2 separate regions of the Homo sapiens genome follow, and region 2 is linked to region 1. The links come from fine-mapping of genetic effects on gene expression. A gene starts in region 1. The other region holds a variant in brackets. All regions are shown on one strand. Distances are from middle to middle.

Evidence for each region. PIP is the estimated chance that this variant, and not a neighbour inherited with it, causes the effect.
Region 2: its variant is fine-mapped to the expression of STIM2-AS1 in whole blood (TOPMed, PIP above 0.99).

The regions. Positions count from the first base shown.
Region 1 is chr4:26,855,590-26,864,713 of GRCh38, forward strand. STIM2-AS1 (STIM2 antisense RNA 1) reads right to left here and starts at 5,010. Exons shown (of 2, transcript NR_134674.1): 1 at 4,921-5,010; 2 at 4,035-4,439. It overlaps STIM2 (stromal interaction molecule 2), which reads left to right and starts at 5,252. Exons shown (of 12, transcript NM_020860.4): 1 at 5,252-5,780. The coding sequence starts at 5,630. It also overlaps a transcript of TBC1D19 not described here. RefSeq lists enhancers at 1,629-1,728, 4,809-4,908 and silencers at 1,849-2,138, 2,159-2,208, 4,999-5,368, 5,379-5,948.
Region 2 is chr4:26,834,688-26,843,249 of GRCh38, forward strand. It overlaps a transcript of TBC1D19 not described here. Among named protein-coding and RNA genes, the nearest start is that of STIM2-AS1, 22 kb to the right of the region's middle. The variant C/CG (reference allele first, on the strand shown) is at 4,890.

The DNA of each region.
Region 1 (9,124 bases):
TAAGGAGTTGAAATTTCCAGTCCCTGGATGGATTTTCCACAAAGAAGAGGGAGGTGGGCAGCCCTTTGAAGCTTTTAAACAGGCCCACTTTTCTTCTCCTTGCTGATATATGTTTCTGTGGCATCTTTTTCTAAAGTAGGTGTTTTGTATACTTTAAGATTGAAAGTAGGTAATTCCTTTTTAGATAATCTCTTCAAGTGCTGTAGGGAACCCCTTGGCAGCTTCCTGCCTCATAATTCACAGACATTATGAATGTTTTTAAAATTAATTTTTAATTGACAAATATTGTGTATATTTATGGAGTACAATGTTTTGAGCTATATGTACATTGTAGAACAATTCAACTGAGCTAACATATCTATTATCTCACTGACTTAACCTTTTTTGTAGTGACAATGTTAAAAATCTATCTTTTTAGCAATTTTGAAATAGACATTAACTGTGGTTATTGTGAAGTACAATAGATCACTCAAACATATTCCTCCAGTCTAACAGTAACCTTATACCCTTTGGTCAGCATCTTCCCTTTCCCCATCCCTCGCCCCATTCACACTTACCAGCCTCTGGTAATCACCTTTATACTGTTTCTATGAGATGAACTTTTTTTTAGATTCCACATATGTGGGGTCATACAATGTTTGTTTTTCTACGCCTGGCTTATTTCACTTAGCCTAATGTCCTCCAGTTCCACCCATGTTGCAGTGAATGAAGAATTTCCTTCTTTTTTAAGGCTCTATAGTATTCCACTGTGTGTATATATACCCTATTTTCCTTATCCATTCATCTGTTGATGGACATTTAGTTTGCTTCCATATCTTGGCTATTGTAAATAATGCTGAAATGAACATGAGAGTGCAGATATCTCATTGACATACTGATTTCCATTCCTTTGGATATATACTCAGAAGTGGGATTGCTGGATCATATGATAATTCTATTCCTAGTTTTTTAGGAACCTCCATACTACTTTCCAAAATGGGTATACTAATTTACATTTCCACTAACAGTATACCAGGGTTTCCTTTTCTCCACATCCTCATCAACACTTATTTGTCTTTTTGATAATAGCCATCATTTTCTCACCATTTTCAATTGTTATGATCTTTACTTTAGCTCCATCACAATTCTAGTCCTCTTTTTGTGGAAAATGTCAACATTCCTGCTGCTTCAGCATCTGTCAGTTATCATGTGATCAATAATATTCATGTAACACCTCAAATTAAGCAGTATAGAGCAAACACATCCTATTTAATAATATAAACGACTCACCCCACACGCCCTCTGATTGCACCGGGCTTTAGCGGGCAAAGTTAACTCGCTTCTGTTGAGCGGCTTTTAAAAAACTATGTTAGTTAAATCTAGAGTTTTTAACTCCCTATCCTGGATGCAAGACACTTAAAAAGACTTCCTTCCTCTGCTCCCAGAGAAAGCAGCAATAAAATTTTCCACCTTCACTACACCACTTGAGGACTATCTCATGTTTTATTGGGTTTAGGGAGGAAGGGTCTTGCTAATGAGTTACTTCCACGGTGTCACTTCTATTCCTAGTGCTTTATTAAACAATTTGAGGACCCCATTTTTATGCTAGGGCTTCATTGATCGAATGGAGCCATCACATTGTCTATATCACTTTAGAGGTGTTTCCAAAGTTCTCAGCACCTCGAGTCCCTTGTTAGCGTTTGTCGAGAGTCAGCGGGAAAACTCGATACCTAACAGCGTTTCCACCGAAGGCAGCTCTCTGAGGGGCTTCACCATCAAGAGCAAGCGAACCAGGCTGGACCACCCTGCTGGGTCTGTCCCGACATTCCAGGGCCACGCAGGGAAGTCAAAGACGGGAAGGAGAAGATCAGTGGGAGGGCGAGGCGCCGGAATTCCCCACTTCTATACCTCCACCCCTACTACCGCCCCACGTCCACCACCCTCCCCACTGACAGCCCGCCGCGCCCGCCCACGCGGTGACGCCATCTCGCGGCTGCCGGGCGCCCCGCCCACAGAGTGGGAGCCGGAAGCCGGGCGGGCAGCGGCGCGCGGCGTCCCGGAACCCAGCAGCTTGAGAACTCGCGCACCTGGGGGAAGCCGGCAGGAGGCAGCGGGCATGCGCGGGGCTGCGGTGGCGCAGGCGCCCTGCCGCGCCCGCCAGTCGGGAACCGGTTCTCCGAGTCCGAGCTGGCGGCGCGCTGTGGGCTGTGCGGGAGCGAGGGGAGAAGAGGGAGATAGGGAGCCCGACATTTGGGAAGGGCAGGCTTGCCTCTGGGATGGGGAGGAGCCGGTGCACGGATCCTGCTGTGCCTCTGTGCAGGGCGCGCCCAGTAGTTTGGGATTTGCAAGAAAATGCAATCAAACAACATGGGCAAAGTGCGATGCGTTTATCCTAAGCCAAGAACACGCTTAGAATGCACGCCCAGAGCCAGTTCTCCCCAAGGGATGGCAACGCACCTGTGTGCCGGGCTCCGCGCAAGGGCTTTCCCTGTTTATTCTCCCGCCGCCGCTAACAACCTTGTGGGGCGGGCATGGTTGGATCCCCAATTTAAAAGTGGGGAAACTGAGGACAGATTAACCTGTCTGCACGTAACACAGCTGAAAAGTGGTGGAATTGCTATTTCTTTCAGGTTTGCCTGATTCTAGAGCTCAATGCTGCCCATCAGGTGTTTGAAGTCATGATTTGGTGAAAATGGGACAGTGAAGACGTTCTGAAAAAAAAAAAAGGCATATGATGAGGTTTGGACATTGAGAGGTATAGGCTGGCTGTAGGAGTCGGGTAAGTGCCAAGGAAAAGGGCCTCAGGGTAGCTTTTGAATGGGATTTGGCGACAGGGAAGGAGAGAAAGCTTTGGGGTGGTGAGAACAAGGGAAGGGAAAGGGAAAACAAAAGCGTGGAGGTGGGAAAGGAAACCTGGGGAGAAAGGTAAGCGATTGCCTCATTTGGAGTCTTGTGTTTATGTTTGGCTTGCAAATAGAAGCATATATAATTCTAGGGTTGGGCTTTTCTTGCCAAGGAATGGATTTTCTCCTTTCTGTTCTTAGGTTTATGCTGTGATGCACAGTGACACGTACCTCTCTCTGTTCAGCAAGGTTCATTCCGGCTATTCATTTAACAGCTGGAAAGTTCTATATCTGTGGCAAAGATGATCTGCGGTGGAGGGTTTATTCCTGGCCCCTGGCCTTCCTGGCCTTGGTCTTTTGAGTGCTTGCCGGATCCCTAGTTCCTTTCCGGTTCCAGTAGTGAGAGGAATAAACACTTAAAACTCCAGTCCAATACACTCTCAATGTCAATACCCTCCCTATCTTTAAAAGAAGAAAAAAAAATACTAAATCATCTTTGTTTAAAGAATCCTGGCCCCTGTGATTTGTTAATTTGTTCGTGGTTTTATACTGTTACTACTGTAACAGTTTGCACTACACCATTTAGCAACTGATTACTACTTTGTATTAGCCTCTAATTGTTTAATGGGTGTACATTTTATCTCCTTAAAAAGATTGTAAGATGCCTTAGTCATGGGACTGTGCTGTTTATCTCATAGCCCTGACTGCTGACTTAATTGCCTTTTTCAAGTGTCTCTCTTGCCTAACCCTCACCACTCAGTACTCTGCCTGGCACATACTAGGTACTCAGTAAACATTTAATAAATGAAATGCCTCCTGGAGAGCAGGAACAAGCTTGTTATTTATATTGTTCTGGTCCCCTAGCAGAATTATCTTCTCTGGTGGGCACTCAGCACTCTGGTGTGACTTCATCGCTGTGCCTTTCAGCAGGGGAAATATAATCTCCCGGTTGCCCTATAAAGAATTGCCACCTGAACACTATGCCCACAAGAAGTCTGCTGAGAAATAACTGTTGATAGATTGACTTAGCCTCAAAGACATCCTTGATTCTTTTCTAAAGTGTGCATCTGCCCTTCCACAATAAACGATATTTGTGGTTATCTTGGCCAGGCTACCTAAGAAATACTTTAGGAGAATGTAATTTGAGTATCTTCTTGGCTTGAGAAAGCAAGCAAACAAACCAATAAGCAGAATGAAACCAACAAAACCCAATAGCAAAAGGATCTTCGTGTTTAATAACCCTATCTGCAAATTTTAAACAATTTTGTGCCCCTGGGAGAAAGAATGCCTCCTTGCGTGTGAATTTCCAGGGCTTTTAATTTATAGTGACAGTACATTCAACACTTCCTTTTAAATTTGAAGGGAGGTGGCCTTAAAAATATGCTGGCAACTAGTTTGGATGAGAAAGATTCCGGTTCTTTATTTATTCAAACCAATTAGACCAGGTCTGAACAGGATTTACAACAGAGAGCAGATCTTGGGTGCACAAGAGCTTTGCTTCATTCCAGGTTGGCGAAAACAAGTCAAGTCTACATCATTGTTCTGTCAGCCGGTTCAGGATACAGCACAGAGTCGATGGGATGGGGGTGGGAAGGTGATGAGTTCAGGTAAATGTACCTAGGAGAGTCAGAGGCTAAAGTAAATTCTCTTAAATAGGCCTTTTCAGTGGCTGCTAAATCTCGCTCATTTCCCATGAATTAGCTGTGGGATATTGGGGACAACTTACTTCACATTTCTAGGTCTTAGTCTCTTCATTCGTAAAAGGGGGTAACGATAATTTTGGAGTTATAGCATGTAAATGTGTAAAACGGTTAGAGCAATGCCTGGTACACTCACACATAGCACGCGCTTTGTGAAATGTTTGGCAAGTAAATAAAACGCTAAGCTATGCTAACCGCGTCTAAACAGCCAGCCACTTGTAAGCCCCACCTATATTGAAATTACGGGGACGCTGCTGTTTTCCGATTGCAAGATTTTCCTGATCCATGCAATTACTTTCGCTGCCCTCTACGAGGCTGAAACTCGCCCTCAGGATGTGGGACGTCTGGACTCTTCTCTCCGTCCCCTTGTAGCCCCCCACTCCCCCTCGCGGTGGTACCGTGAATGAGGGAGAGGTACACGTCCCCCTTCTTCCCCGCCTCCTATCTTCGCGGCTCGCTAAAGCGTTATCAGCCGCCCCACGGTACTACCGTCCGTCTAGGAACGCCTCCGGGGCGGGGCTGGGATGCCGCGCACGCGCAGTACAGCAGCGCCGCGCCTGCGCCGTGGAGAGCCTGAGGGAGGCGGGGGATTGGTATGCGAGCGAATGTGCGAGGGGAGGGAGGCGTCCCGGCGGAGCGTGGTACTACGACCAGCGCGGGCCGGAGGGGGCGGGGGGATGCGCCGCGGCGGCGGCGGCGCGGGAGCTGGGGTTGGTGTTTGGCGGCGCCAGAGCAGCGGATCCCGGTCTCGCCGCAGCAGCAGCGCGGGTGTCGTGCACCGCCTGAAGACGCCGTACCTTTCTACCCCCCACCTTTTTTTTTTTTTTTTTTAAATAACCGGAACCAATGAACGCAGCCGGGATCAGAGCTCCGGAGGCCGCCGGTGCCGATGGGACCAGGCTGGCGCCCGGCGGGAGCCCGTGTCTGAGGCGGCGGGGGCGGCCGGAGGAGTCGCCGGCGGCGGTGGTGGCGCCTCGCGGAGCCGGCGAGCTGCAGGCGGCCGGGGCGCCGCTGCGCTTTCACCCGGCTTCTCCTCGGCGCCTTCATCCCGCCTCGACTCCTGGCCCAGCGTGGGGCTGGCTGCTGCGGCGGCGGCGCTGGGCTGCGTTGCTGGTGCTCGGGCTGCTGGTAGCCGGAGCGGCGGACGGATGCGAGCTTGTGCCCCGGCACCTCCGCGGGCGGCGGGCGACTGGCTCTGCCGCAACTGCCGCCTCCTCTCCCGCCGCGGCGGCCGGCGATAGCCCGGCGCTCATGACAGGTGAGGGGCCGGGGGGCGGCGGGCGGGGCTCGGCCGGCAGCGATGGGACCCCCAACCCGTGCAGAGGTCAGCATCTCCGCCGGACGTCCGCTATTCCGCGGCTCCGGCCAGGGCGCGATGCGGAGCCCTGCCTGCTGCTTCGTCGCGGTCCCCTGCACTCCGGACGTCTTTCCTTTTCACCCCGACACCCCGCCCTCGCCGAGCCTCTCGACGGCACTGATTCCCCTCCCTTCAGTCGGGCTCTCCGATCTTCCAAGCTGAGCAATGCGGTGGTTTCTCTTTCGTGCTGCAGAAGTGCCAGCAGGGTCTGCAGGGGACTGGGCTGATTTTTTTTTTTTTTTTTTTTTTGAGGCTGCTAGAAAAAGTCAGCAGCAGCATTGCGGTATTGAGTCTACCTCTGGTGCTGCTTTTGCAAAGGCAGCTGGCAGCGAGTCTCACCGGTTCAAAGCTCCGCTTGAGCACAGCGTCCCAGGGGAGCCTGCTAAAGGGGATTCTTTGAGAGCCATAATACCTAGTGATATTAGTGGTTCCGTGTTAGTATGCAGAAATGCCTAAGTTTACAGTGCATTTTTTGCGGGGTGGAAGGAGGCCGTTTTAAGTGGTGATGGAAAGTGTTTGGTGGTGGGAGCATCACTGGGTGACAAAGGGTGTAGAAACCTCAGCAGGTAACCAGAAATTATACCTAAAATTTGCAAAGTGCAGCATACTCGGGGCTTGCAGCTGGCAGCACAGTTCTGATAGACTGCACTAGCACCTTTTTTTTAATATATAGAACGATCTCATAATTGAAAACTTGGAAACGTGTTTTGTAAGGTTAAGTGCAGAATTGTATCCTTTTTAAAGCCTTCCGGTGTTATGTACAACTGATCAGTTGTGGTTTAAGTAAAAGTTATTATATAAGGACCCTGAAATGATTTCTTTGGGAAAAGTAATGGAGCTAAAATAATGGTTTTTTTTTTTTTTTTTAGTATTTCACTTATTTTTAAAGTAGATCTGTAGATTTCCTACAATAATTGTAAGACTAAAAAGTTTAAAGTGGCAGAAGATGACCCGTGATTAATTTAACCAAAATGATAGTCCTGCGGGCGTCTGGAAGTTACTAACAGCTTCTCTGACAAGTGCTCAGGAACTGTATTCTTTAAAGCCAAGCAGTTTCTCTGATTTCTATGATAGGATATTTACTATTCTAGAGAGAAGAAGGATGTTGGTAAACTTTAAAAGCTTTGGAGGATGTAGAGTATAGAACATAATGGTCAGCATGTTTAACTTTACCCTGAAGCATATCAAGCCCTATTAAATGGAACTTGATACATCAAACCTACCAATTGGGTAACTGGGATAAAGTGATTATAGAATAATCAGTATTAGGAGCATAGTACAGTTTGAGTGAGAAGATAGGTCAGACAGCTTTATGCTTGAATAGTATTTATTCTCCAAATAAAAATGTGGCAAGTAACAGTATAGTGAAGAATAGTGATTATTAGGAAAGTTGATAAATAAGACTATAATTTGAAGATTTAATGCCTCATGCAGGAAGGGAAGGAGCAGGAATATTTAGGCTTCTAGAAGGTATAAGTGGTTCTAGGTTTCTCGAGCAGAAAAATGTGGTTAATACATAATTGGCTAATGCTCTGTGAAAAAGTAATTGGTAAAAAGGCAAGCAATTCAGAAAATTTAGTATTTATTGACTGCTAATAAGTATATTTTATACTGTGTAGATCACATCAAGAAAATTGGTCAGATGGAATTTTAATAAGCCATTTACAATCCCTTTTAAGACTTAAATTTCTCTATACTTATTTAAGGCATGGGGGAAAAAGGTGATTCTTATTGGAAAAAAATCCGATGTATCACACAAAATGAGTTTGTGCCATAGGGCTTTAAAATAAGTTTGCTAGAAGAATACCCTGGAATTATTTCTAACGTTCTTTTACTTTCCTTTTGTCAGAATATTGATTTTTAACAAGTTAAACGTTTCCACTTAAAGTTTAAATCATAAAACTACACAATATACAAATTAAATTGTTATTTTAATAAGTTTATGTAAATACAGTCAATAGCACCCATATCTTGGTAAAGGTAAACTGAAAATCTATGATGAAGTTAGAAAATATTGAAAATTTCTTTGAACTATATGGCCTCTATAGGGCTCTTTCCCATTCTTAAGAGTGTATGAATAGTGCTTTCTTTTATGGTTCTATTTGTAAATGTTATGCAAAGCCTAGAACCTAATTTATTAGCATTAGTGTACACTTCAGGAAGTAAAACCGTAGACTGAATTTACAAAATACTGTGGTGTGGTATCATATTGTAGGCAGCGTTAATGGATAGAGATGGAGTAGAGCATCAGTAATAAGAGAACTAAACGTCACGTGAATTTTGAAAATTGAAAATTTTTGAAAGCATTCTGAGAGAAGAATTGGTCTCTTTGTCTCCTGATTAAAGTTGTGATTTAGCTGTGAGTATTCTCAATAGCTCTGCAAAATGACAGCCAAAATCACTTTTCTGTTTTCTTCTCGAGATTGGCATTTTTAATACTTACCTTTAGAAGCTCCCTAAGAGTTAGCCTTTGACTAATAAAATGTATAAAACATTCTTTTTCACTGCAGCTTGCCTCTCAAGTGTTTTACTTTAGGGATTTAGTGTACTTTAAGAGTAAATTGCCTTTAAATTATCCTGTGTTTATTTGCTCAAATAAACTGTTATTGCTCAAAACTATACAAATCATCCAAATAAACAGACCCATTGTCATAATGAATACAGGTTTATATTTTCTTTTCCTTTTTAAATATTACCTTTTCAGAATTCAGTGTGCAAATGTTTTTGGTGAGACAGAACCAATATTCATAACATTATATAGTAAGGGTTTTAAATTACATATACAGCGCTTATATATTTAGGGCACTTACTTTGAAAGTGATTGAAATTTAAAGCAAGTTAGGGATAGGTGACTGAGAGCTTGGTGATTGTATTCTAAAGCAGTGCTTTAATAACTCAAAACAATAGTTTTTTTTTTCCTTCTTTGTCTAACAGATTTAGAGTTGATGAATTGATCCTGGTAGGGAGTGACCGATCTCATCCAGATAGGGTCCCTGAGAAATAGCTTATGAAAGGGAAACAAACAAACAAAAAAATGCCGAATAATTGAAACATTACATTATTTCTTACGGAATTGTTTCAGAATTTTTGGGAACAAATTTTAACTGAAAATATTTGCCTCTATCCTTTTAAAGAATGAATTAAAGTAACATTCTTTAGTGCCTATGTGAAGGTTTTATCTTAACTGTAATACCATTTCACTGATTTGGCATGTTATTAGAAATAACATATATAAAAACATGTTT
Region 2 (8,562 bases), 21 kb before region 1:
TCGTTTTCATTCTTCTTCATAGGATTCTCTCCTCATCCATTGAGGGATGATGTTTCTCAAGGTTTTTCCTCTTTTCTTTTCACTCTTAACTATTTTGCCAGGGAGACCCCATCTACGTTCATGTTTTCAATTCCATCTATACTTTGATGATGCTCACATTTAGATGGTCAAGCAAATCCCGCTCCCAAGGTTCAGACCCAGCTATCATGCTTTCTACTCAGCATCACCACCTGGATGTGCCATATTCACAAAGCTCTATGTGTGTAGAACTGAACTGATATTTGAGCCCTTAGCCCTTACTCCCTGTGGTAGGCAGAATAATGGCCTCCAAAGATGTCCACCTCTTAATCACTGAAATTTGTGAATATGTTGTCTTATGTGGCAAAAGGGACTTACTTGGCAAATGTGAATAAGTTAAGGATCTTGATGGGAAGATAATCCTGGATTATGTGAGTGAATCCAATGTAATCACCTGTGTCCTTATAAGAGGGAGGCAGGAGTGTCAGAATCATAGAGAGAGTTTAGAAGATGCAGCTCTACTGGCTTTGAAGATGGAGGAAGGGGCCATGAGCCAAGGAATGCAGGTAGCCTGTAGAAGCCGGAGAACACAAGGAAATGGATTCTCCCCTAGAGCCTGCAGAAGGAAGCAGCCATTCCAACACCTTGATTTTAGCCCAGTGAGACCCACATGGACAGCTGACATCCAGACCTATAAGATAATAAATTTCTGTTAAGTCACTAAGTTTGTGATAATTTGTTACAGCAGCAATAAGAAATGAGTACACTTCCAAAAGCTCACCCTTCTACATTTTCGATCTCAGCAGTGTCACTTCTGTTCATGCAGTTCATAAAGGCAAGGCAGAATCGTAGGAGCCATCCTTGACTCCGTTTCCCAGGTGCACACATCCACTCTCCTTCCTGAACACCTCTCGAATCTACCATTTCTTTCCATTGCCATAACCTAGTCTCAGCCACTATTCTTGATTTCTCTGGCACCTTCCTAAATAGTTGCCCTGCCTCCCTTCACCCTATTCTTTGCCCTGAAGTCAACATGAACTTCCTAAATGAAAACCTGATCATGTCACGTTTCTACTATAAACCTTCAATGGCTTCCCATTGTCCTTAGGGTAAAGTTCAAACTTTGATGTGGCTCACCAGGCTTGTGTTCTGTGATGCCTATTTTCTTCCCTAGCCATTATCTCTCCCCATTCTCTTCTTTCCTGTTCTCCCCTTCAAAATACGTATGCTGCCTATACCACATGCATTCTGGTTCTTGCATGTGAAGTGCTCTCTCTCTCTCTCTCTCTCTCTCTCTCTCTATCACTTCTGGGCCTTTGGACATGATTTTGTTTCTATCAAGAGCATTTCTCCCTGGCCCTTGCCTCTTTGGCTTCAGACTTTGGCTTCCTCTGGAAGCACTTCCTGACCCTTCCAGTTTGGTTTAAACGTCATTCTTATGTGCCCTGACACTTCGACCTCCCCTGTCTTAATGCTCATCAAGCTACATTGTAATTGCTTATTTAATTGTACGTCTCCTCAACTAGACTTTAAACTCCATGAAGTTCTAGAAGAATGGCAGCCAAGTCTGTCTTACTCATAGTTGTATTTCCAGCTTCTAGCACAGTGCCTGGCACAGAGGGGTTCCTCAACAAATGTATTTTAAATGAATTCAAAGAGACCCATGGACAAAATTGAGAAGAGGGAGAAGTCTTTTGAAGCTGATGGTGTTGGAGGGGCAGAGGGAGGTGGGAATCAAGAAACACTTCAGGGAATATGTAGTGTTTGTACTGGGCCCTTGTCCAGCTTTTGAGCTGTTGTCCTGCACCCCCAGCTGCCTTTCTATATTATGCTCTGTAGAGGTACGAACAGGTGTCTGAAAACTACATTTCCTAGGCTCCCTTGCCAGCTGGGTCCAGAGGAAAATCCAAAGGCAGCAGCAGAGAGAAGAGTCCTGCTCTAGTTTTGAGAGTGAAGACTGCTGGAAGTTGCTGGAGCAGCAGCAGGGGTTGCAGGGAGGAGGAGAATTCCAGATTGCAGCAGCCCAGGCAGAGGCAGCAGCTTTCCAGCAGTTCCAGCCATGTCCCTTTGTCTCTCCAGAACTGGCAAGCCTCACAGCAGCAAGTGTGAATGTAGGGACTTCAGCCCAAGGAATTTTAGCTATGGCTTCTTTTCTTGCTCCTTTAACCCCTCTGTTTCTTCCATTTACTCTTCCAAACCTCCCAGCACCTTGGAAATCAATTCACTGTATCAAATTCCCTGTGTTTGAAACATCTAGAGTGGGAGTCTATTTTCGAGCCTGGACCCAGACCCATATTGCCTTGAAGACAGGATAGCGGGAGAAGACAGAAAGGCATTCCATTGGAGAGACTGCCCCAAGCAAGTGTCCAGAATGGGAATGTTTGGAGGGGTTGTGGAGAGTGAAAATCAACCTATTTGGTTAGGGCATAGTGAATGAATAGGAGAGTGGCAAGTCACTAAACCACAGAGGCATAAAAGGTCTATATAATGGAGAAGCTCCAATACTGGGTGGAAAAGTTTGTACTGGTTTTGGTAAGCAATAGAGATTCACTGAGGCCTGAGTCAAGTGCCATAATGGGAGATGGGCATGGAGAAGACCATTTTGCTTAGTGGTGAGTGTGATGAGTTGGAAAAAAAAGAAAGATGCAATAGACTAGCAAATATGTAGTATTTAGAGGCACTGGTTGGATGAGATGAATGAGAGAGGAAAATCAAAGATGGCACCACAATTTTCCCCCTGTTTAACTGGAAGGTAGGGCCCCTAGGAGATGTCAGGAAGATATCAGGAAGAATGAAAGTGGCTTGAAAGCTGTGGAAGGCAGAGAATAATATTTGGCATCTGTATAGCACTTGGAGTTTTCACATATGTGATATCATTTGATTTAAATTCCAATCTCTTAGCTCTTTTCACTAGTCATTGATATTGATCTATAACTGGGCAAAGAAGCTGAGGCTACATAACATGATTTAGCGATCATCTGTATGGAGGAGACAAGCAAAAACAGGACACCGGATGAGATCACTAAGGGCAAGAGTAGAGAAGCCAGACCTACAAGGATGCATGTGGGGTGCGGGTGAGTCTGGGAAGGATGAAATGTTGGAGGTAAGAGAAAGGCTGGTTAGAAAGGAGGATGGTAAGTATTGATAGCAGGAGGACCAAGACAGTTGGTGCTACATAAGCCCAGAGAGAAGGAGATTTTATAAAAAAATTGGACATTTTTTCCCCTAAAAAATGACTGTCACATTCTGCAAGGTGTTAAGGAGAATAAAGGTTGAAGAAAAATCCACTGGGTTTGCAGATAACAGTTTCAATGATTAAGTGGGGACAGAATCTATATTTCTTGTGGCTAAAGAGTGGTTGAATTATAAGAAACAAGGCAATGAGAATGGCTCATTTTCCCATTCTCTTGGCCCCTTTCCCATCCATTTCCTCTGTTTGCCACCAAGTCCTTCCCTCCTCATACCCTCAGCCTACTCACCCATGCAACTTCCGATACCACCTGCATCTGAGTGTAGAATGGGCCAGTTGTTGGACGTATGTATACGAAGCTGGCTCACTGACTTGCAAGTTTGGATTTCAGAGAGACACAGTCTGTGTGACCAGTATCAGCTTACTGTAGAGGCTGAAAGTATTTATTAGTGTCAAAGGTTGGTACTTAAAGTTGTAGACACCAGCTCAAAGTTTTTTATTAAAGACATCTAGCAGTTTATTAAGCAAAGGCTGGCTGACATATATGACTTCATGAAAAACGGGAATAAAAGAATTATACAATTTTCTCCCTTTAAAAAAAAAGCATCGCTTGTGTTCTTACATACTTGACATCCACTAGAAGTCATAAAATCACACCAACACAGTATATATGTTAAAAGCTCCATATCTCCTGAACCCCTGGTGAAGTCTGCAGAACACATTCAAAACAGTTGGTGAGAGTAGGCCACAGCGGGAGGGAGCAGACTTCCTGTACTTTGTCAGACTGGAGGAAGTCAAAGTTAAAATCTGATTACTTCGCAAGGATTCCAAAACCTGATCTAAATCGCCTTTCAGAATCTGTTAACAAATCAAAGAGCATTTCCAGTAGCACCAAGCAAGAGGCCTTATGGCCTGATAATTCTGGTAAGTTCCACTTTTGGGATAGGGAATATTTGACCAAGTTAGATCCTTCATAAAATGCAGAGCCTGTTAAACCCCAACCTAAATATGTTCATAATAAAATATCAGCCTTCCAAATTACATTCTATATGAACAAACAAGCCCACGAAACATCCAAACAACAGTGCAGTAGGTGGAAACAGATGTCATCATTTATTTTAAGATTCGTTTATTCAACAATCGAATGGAGGAATGTTGCTTATTCTATACAACATCTTAGGATTTAAGTAGTTTACCTGCTATTTTGAAACATGCATAGGGCTGTCAAATAGTTTCCTGGGTTTTCAGAATAGCTCCTAAACTGTGCAACTCTGCTTTCTTTCCACAATATAAACAAAAAGGGTTTTTTTTTCCTTAAACTTGCCATAAAAACGATGTCGTCATAGGATAAAAATTTTAAAGCGGCTTTAAAAAATTAAAACCTATGAATTAGTCTCAAGCAGCCTAACTTTATTTTTCTAACCACCAATTCCAACAGTAATAAATACTTATGATTGAGATCTCTGAGTATGATACTTATAATAGGACATAGTAAAAGCCTAGTTAATTTCCACTTCTGGTCTTGAATCGATTTTTTTCTAATGTGTAAAATTTCAAACAGAGCTCTTGCTTCATTTCATGTTACTTTCCTTCTTTATTTAGTTAAAGAAGATGTGTGGGAAGGAGCATGAGGGAGGCATAGGGATAGCAGGGTGGGTTCAATCTCCTTTTCCATCACCCC[C/CG]CCGCCCTTTCTGTCAAAAAAAAAATGCTGAAAAAATTAGTCTCTACCCTTGCTGGCTCAACTTCATCACCTCCCATTCACTTATCCGCCCACTGCCATCTGGCTTCCATCCCAAAACTCCATTCAGATTGTTCTCATTAAGATCACCAATGCTTTCCTCCTTGCCAGATCCAATGACCTATTTTTAGGTCTCCTCCTGGTTGACCTTCTGCGGCATTGCACATGCAATGCAGACCCGAGGCTCCAAACTCACATGCCCATAGGCTGGCTGCAGTCTACACAGGTGAAGCTGGGTTTGGTATTGCGTAGGGTGAGTCACAGGAAGCCTGTCCAACTGTGGGCATGTGTCCCTTCTAAGGTAGCAGCTGCTGCTGTCTCTGGTTGATTTTGGTCATGGAGGAATGTGGACACCGCATTGATAAATATTTTGATTTTTTTTTTTAAAGAAAACTTGGTTTTTATGAGAATGTTTATAATTCTTCTTTCTTTCTCTTTCTCTCTTCCTCTCTTTCTTTCTTTCTTTTTGACTGAGTTATACTCTGTCGCCCAGGCTGGAGTGCAGTGGTGTGACCTCAGCTCACTGCAACCTCCGCCTCCTGGGTTCAAGTGATTCTCCTGCCTCAGCCTCCTGAGTAGCTGGGATTACATGTGCCCACCATCATGCCCAGCCAATTTTTGTATTTTTAGTAGAGACGAGGTCTTACCATGTTGGCCAGGATGGTCTCAAACTCCTGACCTCAGGCAATCTGCCTGCCTTGGCCTCCCAAAGTCCTGGGATTACAGGTGTGAGCCACTGCACCCAGCCTCTAATTTCTAACTATTGGCTCAATTTTCGTTTAATGCTTGTAGGGAAAGTAGACATCACTGTAGACCTCCGAGGAGAAGACTGTACTGTAGATGAGTCTATGGTTCTCTTGCCCTCTGGGCCTGGTTCTTTATAGGTTCTGCCTATTTGTTTCTGCCCATTTTTCTGCTGTTCCCCTGGCCCCCATACCTACCTCAATCATATTGAGGCTCCTTGTGTTCCTTCTTAGTCCCCTTCTATTTTCTCCTCCTCGTGGGAAATGTTGTAGACCCAGGGCTAGCTTCCTGGGCTTGCAGTCAGTGCAGTTGCCCTGAGCCCCACATTCAGAAGGGCTCCATGCTCATGGGTTAGTGCTCTGCAGCTGCTATCTTGAAATTCTTACGTTATCTCTGAATTTATGTTTTGTGAGTGAAATACGATGGGATAACGAGCATGTGCCAGGGACTTAGCATTTCAGCTCAAGCGCTGTCCTTCTCACTGCCCTTCTTCTCACTTCTCAGCCTGAGAAGAGTTCTTGGCCACCTGTTCCTTCAACCTTCCCCGACCCAGGTCCTGCCACTCTCCTCCTCTAACCCTTCCCCCCAAGACTGCCATTATCCTCCACCCTGGCAGGAAGCTGAGTGCAGGTGTAAGAAGGGTTGGGGTCCTTGCACCTGCATCTCTAGTCAAGGCCTGGCAACAGTGGCTGTCCTCACCCTAGCCTGAGTGCATGAGGCTGGATACAGTGGCTCATGCCTGTAATCCCAGCACTTTTGGAGGCTAAGGTGGGCGGATCACCTGAGGTCAGGAGTTTGAGCCCACCCTGGCCAACATGGAGAAACCAAAAATACAAAATTCTCTACCAAAAATACAAAAATTAGCCAGGCATGGTGGCGTGTGCCTGTAGTCCCAGCTACTCGGGAGGCTGAGCAAGAGAATTGCTTGAACCTGGGAGGTAGAGGTTGCAGTGAGCTGAGATCACCCCACTGCACTCCAGCCTGGGTGACAGAGTGAGACTCTGTCTCAAAAAAAAAAAAAAAAAAGTGTATGACTTGTTGAGGGTCAGCCTGTTACCCCCTGTGATCCAAGTCCCTAGCACATCTTGATGCAGAGGTTGCAATATCCTTGGGATTGCCCATCTGCTATGGGCTGGGACAACTGACTCTTGGAAAGTGGAGATGCCTGACTTGACTTCCCAGCCCCTCACTGAGGTGTGGTGCATGCGAGCTGGTGAGAGGGGGAACATGGCAGCTGTCAGGCTCAAGGGCATATGGAACTTCCAAGTCCCACGGCAGCAACCAGAGCATCTGGGAGAGTCTGAACTTACCCTACGCGTATTTTTGGATCCTTTGGGCCACTCTGTGCCTGTGAGAACCTTTTCTTTCTCCTTTTAGCTTCTCTGAGTCTGGCTTGTGTTCATTTCTTCTGACCAGCTTGAGACACCATCCGGGGTCAAGCCATAAAATATGAATGGTGTGATGTCAGTGATTCTGACAGGAGCTCAATGTTCTAATATTTACATCTAGAACTGGCATTGCACAATATAAAGATGAACAGTAAAATTCATGCCAGTAATTTAAAATCTTTATTTAGAGCAATATTAAATAGTGAATTAAAAACTCACCATGACATGTTGAGAGAGAAAGAGAGATCTTGGAGGAAAGGGAATAGTTTATATTTTAGGACCTTAGTATCTTTAGTCATTTTAATGGCAATTTTCCTGCTCTTTGAACAAAGGCCACCAAATTTTTATTTTTTATCAGGCCCCACAAATTGTATACCTGGTTCTGCCCAGGCCTGCTTTTGCTGATGGTTCCCCACTACATCTTCAGTCTGGATTCTGCATCTCCTCTCCAGACCTGCTGTATCTTGGGGGTTTGCAGGCAACTCAAGCTCAACATGTTCTCACCTGACATCATCCCTCAAGTGTGTTTCTCCCTTTACATTTCCTTGTTTTCCTTTTTCTTTTCTTTTCTTTTCTTTTTTTTTTTTTTTTTTTTTTGAGACAGGGTCTCACTCTGTCACCCAGGCTGGAGTGCAGTGGTGTGATCACGGTTCACTGCAGCCTCCAACTCCTGGGCACAGGTGATCCCCCCACCACAGGGTAGCTGGGACTATAGGCATGCACCACCACACCTGGCTTTCCTTCTCCTTCCTTCCCTTTCTTCCCTTCCTTCCCTCCCTCCCTCCCTCCCTCTTTCTTTCCTTTTCCTTCCTCCCTCCCTTTCTTTCTTTCTTTCTTTCTTTCTTTCTTTCTTTCTTTCTTTCTTTCTTTCTTTCTTTCTTTTTCTTTCTTCTTTCCTTTCTTTCTCTTATTTTTTTGTAAAGATGGGGTTTCACCATGTTGCCCCCGGCTGGTCTTGAACTCCTGGGCTCAAGCAATTTGCCTGCCTCAGCCTCCCCAAATGCTGGGATTAGGATTATAGGCGTGAGCCACAGTGCCTGGCCTATTTCCATGTTTTCTTAATGAAATATCATCTCGACACACATTTGTAACAGAGTAGTTGCTAAATTGTTGAATGGATGAATGAAATCGTAGAAACATTTTCATTTTTCTCTGTTCTTTCACAGAAAAAGGAAGAATTAAGTCTTCCTGGGCAATTAGGAAAAGGCTCTTGGAGGAGGTAATATATGATCTGTGGTTTTAAGAATGAACAGGTCTTTCAGGCAGCATGCATGATACGTTTCTACAGCTATCTGGGTGACTAGAAGTTATTTCTGAGCACAGGCTTGTCATGGAGAAGAAAAGGGGAAGGAGAAGAATCAGGAACAACAATTCTTCCACTGCCAGAAACATAAAACATAACTGAAATTAATGAGTTGCAAAATAATTCCTGTATTAAAAATTTTTTGGAACGTGTTCACATGACACTTTTTAAAGCTTCATGC